3 linked regions of the Homo sapiens genome follow. The protein of the gene in region 1 purifies or fractionates together with the protein of each later gene. This does not show direct contact. Each region holds a gene or a part of one and is shown in the gene's direction. Other genes may lie near its edges. The genes, in order: SERINC3, HACD3 and KDELR2.

What was found.
Region 2: the proteins of SERINC3 (region 1) and HACD3 purify together in Homo sapiens (affinity purification with mass spectrometry; one large-scale study listed by BioGRID and IntAct). This does not show direct contact.
Region 3: the proteins of SERINC3 (region 1) and KDELR2 purify together in Homo sapiens (affinity purification with mass spectrometry; one large-scale study listed by BioGRID and IntAct). This does not show direct contact.

What each region holds. Positions count from the first base shown.
Region 1 is NC_000020.11:44,519,212-44,523,646, reverse strand, and holds the start of SERINC3 (serine incorporator 3), read left to right. Parts: upstream 1-1,576; 5' UTR 1,577-1,695; coding exon 1,696-1,734; intron 1,735-4,435.
Region 2 is NC_000015.10:65,575,392-65,578,930, forward strand, and holds the end of HACD3 (very-long-chain (3R)-3-hydroxyacyl-CoA dehydratase 3), read left to right. Parts: intron 1-911; coding exon 912-988; 3' UTR 989-2,958; downstream 2,959-3,539. UniProt on the Homo sapiens protein: Catalyzes the third of the four reactions of the long-chain fatty acids elongation cycle. This endoplasmic reticulum-bound enzymatic process, allows the addition of two carbons to the chain of long- and very long-chain fatty acids/VLCFAs per cycle.
Region 3 is NC_000007.14:6,460,474-6,463,907, reverse strand, and holds the end of KDELR2 (ER lumen protein-retaining receptor 2), read left to right. Parts: intron 1-732; coding exon 733-767; coding exon of another isoform or gene 768-942; 3' UTR 943-2,819; downstream 2,820-3,434. UniProt on the Homo sapiens protein: Membrane receptor that binds the K-D-E-L sequence motif in the C-terminal part of endoplasmic reticulum resident proteins and maintains their localization in that compartment by participating to their vesicle-mediated recycling back from the Golgi.

The sequences.
Region 1 (4,435 bases):
TAAACTCTCCTTAGATTTAGTTACCCAGCATAAACCCAAATCCTAAAATAAGTTCTCCCCAGTCACCTCTTACCAAGACACCTTATATTTTCTCTGATATGTGTTCTCCCTTTCTGAACAAGCTAAATAAACCTAATTCTTTTTGACTACAGGTATGTTTCTGGTAGAATTCGATCTGTAAAATTTATCACAGTCAGCTCTCTTAAGTCCAGACCAGCAATACTCAGACAGGAAGAAGCAAGAATGTTAAGGACTACCTGGAAAGTTCAGTGGTCCTGAAGCAACTTGACTTGAGCTGGTATTTGTGTATGTGTGGTGAGGAGAGGGATCTGGGAAAAGAGAGGTAGGAATTATTAAATGTGAGTAGTTCTCTTTCTTCTTTCATCAGCCCTTTTCATGGCCTTGGGCAAACTTTGAGCCTCATTCCATTTCTGTAAAAGATGAATTTGGAATACATTTTCAAGGAATCCAGGAAATAACATCCCCAAATATGCCACACTGGTATGATGATTGCTTGGGGAACAGCACATGGAGAGAGGGGCTTTTCATGAATTTCCCTTATCAGACTAAAGGCTGACAATCCAGAAGGAATTCAATTATGAATCCCCTTCCAGAGAGTTTTATCTATCAGGGAAGATTAACACACCACAGGAGAAGATATTGAAGTGTGACACCTTGTTGTCCGGACATCATCATTGTTTGCCACATTCCACCTAAACTATTATATGTGTAAGTAAAAAATGTTTTCATTTTCTTCTTTAAGTGAACTCTCAAATTTGACATGTATTTTGAAAGGAATATTTACATCACTGCTTAAATGGGAAATCAGCATTGCTCGGAAGAAATGAAAAGGTTATTGCTAACACACACCTCAAAACAAAACAATATTTTAAAACTGCAGGCATGGTTGCCTGTTTGAGAGATCTGGAAAATGAAGGCTTTACTCTGTTAGAAAGGGAGATAAATACTAGAAAAATGTTAAATACCATACTGGCCTCAAACAACTAGCCTGTTGGTTTGAAATGGGACGTTCTCACTCTGCTGTTTAATATCGCTTAATGTCCTTCATGCACCCTTAGAGCCATTCATTTTTCCCAAATGGGGTGCATCCCACATTTTAGGATACGATTTCCATCGTTTCTAGGTTAATTTGGACTCATCCTTTAGTTCGCAGATTAAAAAATAAATCCTTCAGAGAAGCCTTCCAAGACTACTGCCCAGCTAAATTACTTTCCCCTTACAATAGGAGGCACTAAATACACCTTTATTGAAAGCCTATTCCCCCATACTACTTCATCGTATTCATTACATTGGGGCACGGTGCATTTATGTTGTCAGATCTCCTATTAACTAGAGAATAAATTCTGAGCGTACTGTGCCTCTCTGTACACTTCTGTAACTTCCAGATCTTTGCACAATGAATACAAATGATGTAAGGAATGACACCTTCACAGTTCCTGCAACCCCAGGATGGTTTAGCCCCACCTTCCCCCTCAGCCAATGACAGGCGCCCCCCTCTGCCGCTCCGGTCGCGGACGGTGGGCGGGGCCACGCCGTGACGCATCCGTGCGTCTGTGGAAGGCTGCGTTTCCGGCCTGAGAAACCGTCATGTTTCTGGGGAGTCACCTCAGCTGGCAGTTACCACCGTGTTAGAAAGCAGCCTCAGGACCGGCCACCTCCATCACTGGCGTCACCATGGGGGCTGTGCTGGGTGTCTTCTCCCTCGCCAGCTGGGTGAGTTCGGGGTCCCGAGTCCTCGCCGGACCTGCGGTTTGCGGGGAAAGGCCTCGAGACCAGAGCTGCACGGGCCTTGGCTCCAGAGGCTCTCGGGATGTCAGCAGGCCCTGGGCTACAGAGGGTCTCCGGGGCCCCAGACGCAAATCCGCGATACCCTCAGGTCCAGCTTAGGCGGCTCGCCCTCCGGGTTCCTCGGGGAACGGAAGAGGCTAGGCCGCCATTGTTTACAATTCGGATGGCTCCGCCCTGCGAGGCTTCCTGACTAGGTTCCTCTGGAGCTGGAGAGGGACCAAGGAATGACAGCTCCCAGCGAGGGGCTCCGGTTCCTCCCGAAGCACCTCTTAAGGTGCCATCATTTAGTTCTAGGTGGCTCAAGTAATATTTTTATCCCCTAGCACGGGATTTGCCAAAACTACAGAGTGTGTGGCAAAGCTGGGGTTTTAGCGGAGGCTTGTCTGCAGTTCAGGTGCAAGGGAAAGAAGCCCTTGTGGATTGTTATTCAAAATTGGAAACCAGGGCCTGAATATTTTGGGACTGCTGTAAGTCATTTATCCGAGGATAATCACCCCAGCATTCCTCTCTTCGAGAACGATTGTGACAGTGAAGTGAAGGTTTAATCACCTTGTAAACTGTAAACATTTTAAAGAGAAAATTATAGGGCCTATAAAAGAATATGCTGAGTTCCCTCATTTACCCACTTCAGAGGAGCGTGATTCCTTGATTCCTCATTCTCCAGCTGATTTAATTGACCAAGTGTGTAGAAAAAGCACACTCAGTTTCTCCTGCTGTACTCACAACACACTTTTGACACCTGATGTGTGGTGTGTGGGGATTTTCCCCCAAACATCAGGCAAACAGTCAGCTCTGCAGGGGATGCCAACTTGGTGCCCTACAAGTCAATTCCGAAGCTCTCTACTTGGAGATAGCATCAAATCACACAAGTGGAGGGCTCAGTCTCACAAGACTGTGCCCACTTTCTGTGCCAATGGCAAGCCTCAGGTTGTTTTACCTGTGCTTCTGACCGGCCACCTATAAATCAAAGTTCCCGTGACCTCCCTCCTTGGCTTTGATTAATTTGGTCACAAAACTCAAGGAAACATGTTTACTGGTTTATTATAAAAGTATTTTATTTTGTGTATTTATGTATTTTTAATTTTAGATTCAGAGGGTACATATGCAGTTTTGTTACATGGGTATATTGCCTTATCGTGAGGTTTGGGTTTCTAATGATTCCGTTGCCCAAACAGTGAACACAGTATCCAACAGGTAGTTTTTCAACCCCTATCCCCCCACCGTCCTTCCCCACTCTTGGACTCTCCAGTGTTTATTGTTGCCATCTTCGTGTCTGTGTTCCCAGTGTTTAGCTCCCACTTGTAAGCGAGAATATGCTGTATTTGGTTTTCTGTTTCTGTATTAATTCACTTGGGATAGTGGCCTCCAGCTGCATCTTTGTTGCTGCAAAGGACATGATTTTCTTCTTTTTTTATGGCTACTATTAATATATTTTTAAAGATACAGATGAAGTGATATGTAAGACAAGGTGTAGAGGGAACGGGTCTGGAGCTTCCATGCTCTGTCTGGGGCAGTGGCGCCATCTCGGCTCTCTTCAACCTCCAAGGGATTCTCATGTTTCAGCCTCCCGGAGTAGCTGGGATTATAGTGTATGCCACCACGCCCAGCTAATTTTTGTATTTTCAATAAAGACGGGATTTCGCCATGTTGGCCAGGCTGGTCTCGAACTCCTGGGGTGTGAGCCACCATGCCCAGCCAAAAGTTCTTCTGAACTTTGTCCTTCTGAGCTTTTATGCAGGCTTCATTATGTAGTCAGCATTCATTAAATCATTGGCTTTTGGTTACTGACCTAACCTTCAGCCCCTCCTTGGAGGGTCAGGGGTGAGACTGAAAAGTCCCAACCTCCTACTATGACCCTCACCCATCATGAAGCCACCTAGGGGCTGCCAGTCACCAGTCATCTCATTAGCATACAAAAAGACGCTGGTTATTCCAAGGATTTTAGAAATTGTATGCCAGGAAATGGGAACCAAACATACATATATTTGACAGTATTACACCAAGGATTCTGTTTCAGCTCTTTCTACTATTTTTCTTTTTTTTTTTTGGAGGGGGACAGAGTTTTGCTCTGTCACCCAGGCTGGAGTGCAGTGGCTCAGTCATAGCTCACTGCAGCCTTGAACTCCTGGATTCAAGTGATCCTCCCACCTCAGCCTTCCCAGTACAGGTGTGTGACACCATGCCTGGCTTCATTCCACTATTTCTTAGGAACAGAATGTATTTTAAGGTTGTTGGTCCTAAATCAAAAGAGTGTTCCATTTTTAAGGGCTTTCTTGAGAGCAGTGGTTTTCTAATTATTCTGACCTTGACCTAAAGAAAGATTGTACATAGTTGATCTGTGATCTGATGCACCCATATAGAGACAAAGTTTTATGAAATAATCGTTTACTGTACAATTTTTCTTTTATCTTCTATCACATTAGAAAATCCTGGTGAGTTGAAGGCCAGGCATGGTGGCTCACGCCAGGATGGTCTCAATCTCCTGACCTCGTGATCCGCCGGCCTCCCAGAGTGCTTGGATTACAGGTGTGAGCCACCGCGTCTTGCCCGGCTTTTACTCTTAAGTTATATGGGAATCTATTACAGAGTTTGAAAAAAGGAGTGATGTGATCTGGGCCTGTGTTTT
Region 2 (3,539 bases), on another chromosome or scaffold:
TGGCCAGGCTGGTCTCAAACTCCTGACCTCAGGTGATCCACCCATCTTGGCCTCCCGAAGTGCTGAGATTACGGTCGTGAGCCACCACGCCTGGCCATGTTCTTGAGTAGGCTTGAATTAAAAATTAGGTTGTTTCTGCACTTTAGATTTGTGCATTTCATTGTAAATTTTACTGTAAAAGAAAGAAAGAATATTGAACTATACCTACCTGAAGAATTAGGGGGGTGAGGTGTATTGATATCTGCAACTTAACACTGAAGTGCATAAAAAATGAGATGGCTGGAGGGATAGATGAATAGGGATGTGATATAGCCAATATAGTAAAAAGCAGTAAATCTAGATGTTCCCTGTATAATGATTTAATCTTTTGCGTGTTTGAAAATTTTATAAGAGAAAAAAATGTTTTAAACTCACTGGGAGGCTGGGTGTGGTGGCTTACGCCTGTAATCCCAGTACTTTGGGAGGCCAAGCTGGGCAGATCATTTGAGGTCAGGAGTTTGAGACTAGCCTGACCAACATGGTGAAACCCCACCTCTACTAAAAATACAAAAAATTAGCCAGGCATGGTGGTGGACGCCTGTAATCCCAGCTACTCAGGAGGCTGAGGCAGGAGGATTGCTTGAACCCAGGAGGCGGAGGTTGCAGTGAGCTGAGATTGTGCCACTGCACTCCAGCCTGGGTGACAGAATGAGACCCTGTCGCAATAAATAAATAAATAAACCCACTGGGGAAAAATTGCTTTGTGTCTATTGTATTGTTAATTTGTTCTAAATTGTACTCCTTCCTGAGCCGCTGCAATAAGCTTTTTGCTGTGGAATATGACGACAGCTAGATACTGTCCCTGCCACAAGAGCTTCTGGTTATAAATAGACAAAGACTCTAATTTCTAATTGACCTCTTTTCTTTTTCAGGTTTATACATAAATTTTCGTCACCTTTATAAACAGCGCAGACGGCGCTATGGACAAAAAAAGAAAAAGATCCACTAAAAAGAAAGATTTAGATGGCTTCTTGCCAGTTTGAGCCTAATCTGATTCTTACAGTTTTACCTTCTTGAACCAATGTAAAAGTTTTTTTAATGTTAAATGATTAAATTCTCAGTGAGGCTATCTTCCTTTTCCCCAGTAACATTCCTGAATTTACTGTTATCTTATTGTAGTACTTGCATGACATGGATTCCTGATATCTGATGAGAGGTTCATTCTTGTGTATTCAGTTAATGACACCAAAAGGCTCAGCCCACCCCAACCCTATCTCATGTTCAGTCTGTCTAATACATGCCAGAGATTTTTTTTTCAAAAAGTGCTTTATCCCTACAATGTACTGACAGTTCTTACAGTTGAGATTTGTTCTTTTCAGCTATTGCTTGTGAAAAAAAGCAAGACTATGTCACTCTATAGAAGGCTGTTAAAGTGACTCAGGCAGGAATTAATTATTCTGTACCTAAGGGGTTACTTGTTTAATGGGATGGCATTGACTTTTTGAAAATCAAGTGGACTGAGTCATTGATAAAACATTTCTAAGAGTGGGGCTAGAGAACATACTTTACATCTGACATCCTTTGGCCTAACAACATCTATTATTATAGTGCTCAGCAGTGTGGGCATTGAAGAGGCGCAGAATGCTTTGAAAGAAACTAATCAGAATCTTGGAACATCATGATCATGCCATTCTTAAGTAAATCAACTATTTTCAACACTGAAGAAAAATGAAACATTATTTAGAAAACAATGAGATTACAAGTTCCAAACTCAGCCAGGAATGTGGCTCACACCTGTAATCCCAGCACTTTGGGACACCTAGGTGGGAGCATCGCTTGAAGCCAGGAGTTCAAGACCAGCTTGGGCAACGTAGTGAGACCCCTATCTCTACAAAAAATAAAAAAATTAGCTGGGTGTGATGGCACACACCTGTTGTCCCAGCTACTCAAGAAGCTGAGATGGGAGGATCCTGAGCTCAGGAGGTCAAGGCTGCAGTGAGCCGAGATTGTGCCACTGCACTGCAGCTGGGGTGACAGTGCAAGACCCTGTCTCAAACCAAACCAAACCACACACACACAAACACACATACACACACACACACACGAGGTCCAAATGGTAGCAGGGATCCAAAGGGAACACAGTATGTAGGTCAAACTGGCAGTAACAGTGTACAGCCTTTGACAAACTAGAAATATTAGAGTAGGCCAAACACACCTCCAAACTGTAAGGCTGTGCACAAACATAAAAAATGGCAGCCTTCCATCTCCTGCACTGGCTGAGTCCATTTACTTGTGTACTTGTTCTAGTGAGTGGTGGGACTGTACATTTTTGAATAGACCTCAAAAATACTTCATTCTGCTGCTGTTCAGTTGGCTTTTTAAACCTGTCTGCAGTAGGACACTGAAAACAGCAAGAACTTCGGGGTGAACACCCGCTGATCCTTTAACAAGGATTTCTGGCAGGAAACTCACAAAAAGGAGAACTGAAAATTTAGACATACAGTTGGCCATTGTAAAAAACATCAGTTTCCTCTCATACATTCCAAGTAAACCAAGTAAAATAAGTGTTGGAGTAACACTTGCATAAAAGAATTTAAGGAGTGATAGCTCTTTCTGTTCTGCCATTCCCAACATTCCTGGGGGAAAGGAGACTCAATGAGTTAATACTATTTCACTGAGCCCAAGATGGAAACTTGGTTTGACCTAAAACATCTGATTAATATAGGCTAGCTGATTTCTTAAAAATTCGTTGCATTGAAGGATATTTTGCATGTCTGTAACACCTGTCAATACTTGTTTGTATTGATTTCTGATATTCTTGCAGCTGACTACGTGTAATTGGGCAGATCAGCTTTGCAGTAGATTATGCTGCATCCTCGTGGCAAAATTCTGTATTCTTAGTGATTGTTACAAACCCCTTTATTGCTGTCTGAGAAAGTGAAAGATTGTGTATTTCTATTAAAACATTTACAATCAAAATTCTAATGACTGTGCTTAAAGATAATTTAGTCTAATGGTTCTCTGTTAGTGATAAAGACCTTTGTTCAGGCAAAATATTATGTAGCAGTTCAGCATGTTAAACCAAAAACAGTTGCTCTGGTTGAAGCCTGAGAGTTACATGGAAGGTGGTGCAAATGAAAAACACTGATGATGCAGACAAAGCCTTGAGAAGTTGCCCAAAGTCATAAAGCTAGCTGATAAATTGGAACCATAATTAACTTTGGAATCGGATCGGTGATCTGTCAGGATTACCTAGCCAGAACCTTGCTTAGGCAATGAGGCCTAATCAGTGTCAGAAATAAGGAAACCTCATGATTTATGAATCTATGCCACTTAGAAAGTTGAAATTATATTAAAGTGATAAGACAGACCAAAAGCAAACGACCTTTAGTTTCATAGTGAAACCATTTTCTAGAAAATCAAATATTTTATTTTCATTAAAAAAAAACCTTGAATAATAGGAATCATTTTACACATTAATGGTTGCTCTTTAAAAGTTAGAATCTCAAGAGATACCAAAAGCACTTAAGAGTTACCACCACATTTTGCCCAAGTTCTAA
Region 3 (3,434 bases), on another chromosome or scaffold:
TGTATTTTTATTAGAGATGGTGTTTCACCATGTTGGCTAGGCTGGTCTTGAACTCCTGACCTCAGGAGATCCGCCCACCTCTGCCTCCCACAGTGCCGGAAGTATAGGCGTGAGCTACCTCACCCTGCCATCCTTTGTGTTTTTTTTTTTTTTTATCTTTTTAAAGAGACAGGGTCTCACTCTGTTACTCAGGCTGCAAGAATGCAGTGGTGTGATCCTTCCTCACTGCAGTCCCAAACTCCTGGGCTCAAGTGATCCTCCCTGCTCATCCTCCTGAGTAGCTGGGACTACAGGTGCATGCCACCACACCTGGTTCTTTTTAAAATTTTTTTTTTATAGAGATGGGGTCGCTCTCACTTTTTTTGCCCAGGCTGGTCTTGAACTCCTAGCTTCAAGGGATCCTCCCACCCTGGCCTGCCAAAGTACTGGGATTACAGGCATGAGCCACTGCATCCGGCCTTTATGTTATAGTACCCAGAATTTCATAGGCCTCCCTACATAAGCTATATTTTACTATATATTGATTAGGGTGAAAGTCATAATAACAAAAAGCCACTATGAATTTAGTGGCACTTTCAATCAAATTTGTATTTTTAAAATACAATTGCTTATTTCCTATACCTTACTATGTAGAATCTTGTGTGTGGGAGACTTCTAGGAATGGGAAGAAGGAAGCTAAGTTTGTCAATATCAGTAACCTTTTGTTTTCTTTTCTTCTCTTTGAAATTCTAGTACTCAAGGGAAAGAAGCTCAGTTTGCCAGCATAAGTGCCAAAGACCATCACCAGCATCTGTCCTTCAGGGTGCTCGGACAGAATTCTTACCACAGCAAAGGCATAAGATGCTTGATACGGAAAATCAGAAACTTAACTCTTTTGTTGCAGATAGTCATCAGTGGCTCTGTAAAAACGCAGAGGAAAAGAGCCAGAAGGTTTCTGTTTAATGCATCTTGCCTTATCTTTTTTTATTACTGTGTACAAAGATTTTTTTACACAAAGAAACTTAATGCTGTATTAATAAATTCAGTGTGTAGCTTCAATTGGGATAGTTCCAAAAGTGAAGATTTTGTGAGGAATAAGTGCAAATTTTTTTTTTATTTTAAAAAATTCTTTGAAACTCTTAAGTCTTTGTGTCTGCAATGAAATTGTACTCCTTGACAGTTGATAGATTATATATTCTTCCATCCCTCAAACTTGCATTCCACTATATTTATTTTTTGGCAAAAGATGAGCTGTATTTGTTTGAAATCTGAGACACTATGTTCAATTGGATGTATCTGTTCAAATTTATTCCCACGTGACGTGGAAGTCCTTCGTTGGATGTCACAACACTACATTTAAGGTTGGTAAGGATGACTTGGAGGTCCATGGTTTTCATTACCAACATTTTAAGATTCTGAATGTCGATGGAGTCTCACTGAAGAGTCACCAAAGGTGCCTGCCCTCCTCCCCTGCTGGGAAGTGTCAGTTGGAGACTGTCCCAAGGGTGCTGAAGAATCCAGTGGCAGGGGTTCTGGCTGCTTTCCATCTGAGTGTGGGATGGGAGGGGTGTTCATGATCATTTGGATATAGCAATCTACTCTGAGAAATGGAACACAAGGAGTTACCTATCACTTTCACTTATAATTCCAAAAGATGACTACAACCATGTCCATGCTCAGATTCAAACAGTTTTCCATATCACTTTTGGGTGGTAAGATGATTTAATTACAGTTTTTTTTTTAATTGGCAGCACCACTAACCATTCCTTACATTCTTTTTTGTATGTGTGGTTTTCTTTTTATTTAACCCGCAGCCGACATCGTAGTTTCTTGTTTTGTTTTGTTTTACAGAGCTGTTGCATGACTTATGTTACCATCCTAAAAAACACTATATTAAACATGGAATAAATTGTCTTTTTATGAATTAGGCTTTTTGAACATCCTGTGTTGGGATTTTTTTGTTTTTCAATTGGCAACAAAAGCTCTGTAGGGCTGCAGACATTTAAAGTTCACATAATCATCTGTAAGACATTATGTATTTTGTGGAAATACTAGAATTTTTTTCCTGATTTTGCCATTATATGGATTTGCTATTTTTTGATTAATGCAAAAGTATATGACTTTGTTTTTTATGTGATACACCATAAATATTAAAGTGTTGAATACTAACAGTGCTGACTACAAGAAGGATGTAGTATTTTGGCTTTCTGCATTACAACGTCTTCTGGAGGAAGGGAGCAGGATGGGTTTCATTTGTATCTAGTGTGTGTCTTAACATCTTTCTAAATCGGCAGTGTAACTGCATAGTTTAACTTCCTGTCTGTCTCCCTCATTTTACTCTTCCCTCCTTGTCTTATGTTTTGGCTTTTGTGTATCAGAGCATCTTTCTTTGCAGCATCCTAGTCTTGCTTCAGTTTCTGTGGTCTCTTTTCATCCTGCTTGAAGATTCGGAGTGTGGAAGGAGGCTAGGAAGTCTGGTGCAGTAGGTGAGCAGACCTCTTGCTGCCCAGCCCAGGGTGGGTGGGGCGCACACCTGTCTTTGTGCATGCAAATCTGATACACCTGGCGCATCCTCTGGAGAGCACAACGCATGGAAAGGTCTGGAAGCTCTGTGTAGCCATTCCTTCTGCAGTCATCCTACCCAAGTAAAAGTAACCTTGGCTATGTTACCACCGTTTTGGTCACCCAGGAGGACATCTTAGCAAGGGTGCCTGCGAGGGAGTGTGGGACTGGGCCTCATCCTCGCCGGCGTTGGAAACCAAGGCCTTGTATGCCACGCCTTATGAAGCACTGTTTCACAGTTACTTTCACTTCCCGAATAAAGGTTACCAGGTAATTAATATTTTTATTGAGGTGTTTGTGTGTTTTTCAATGTAAGCATCATGAGAAATAAAGCAAAGTTCAGATATTTGCCCAGTAATGGATATAGGAAAAGCTGCTTTCCAGCCAGGCCTGGTGGCTCATGCCTATAATCACAGTACTTTGGGAGGCTAAGGCAGGAGGATCACTTAAGGCCAGGAGTTTCAGACCAGCCTGGGCAACCTAGCAAGACCACATCTCATTTAAAAAACTAGTAAAAATGAAAACTTAAAAATAATAAAGGCTTCTATCCATTGGCTCCTTAACAGAGAGAGACCAATCTATTCCCCTGTCCAGTTCAATCACAAAGAAACTTTGAAGAAGTTTCCCTGTTGCCTTATGCCCTGGCTAAGAGAAGAGCAGGTGGAGAAGTGGTTTTAATGGAGATCATAGTGATTTATGGGAACCCTTAAGTAAGAAAAGCACATGCTTTGGGCCCAGGCATGTGTTGAGGCTTGGTTCCCTCACTTGTACTCCCTGGCCCTGGACTTCACGTGAGCCTCGTTGCCTCCAGTTACATAGGTAAACTGCCAGGGATTTCTGTGTGGTTTAAATGAGCTGCTGTTGGCAAAGCTCGTGGCTGGAGCTTGGTACAT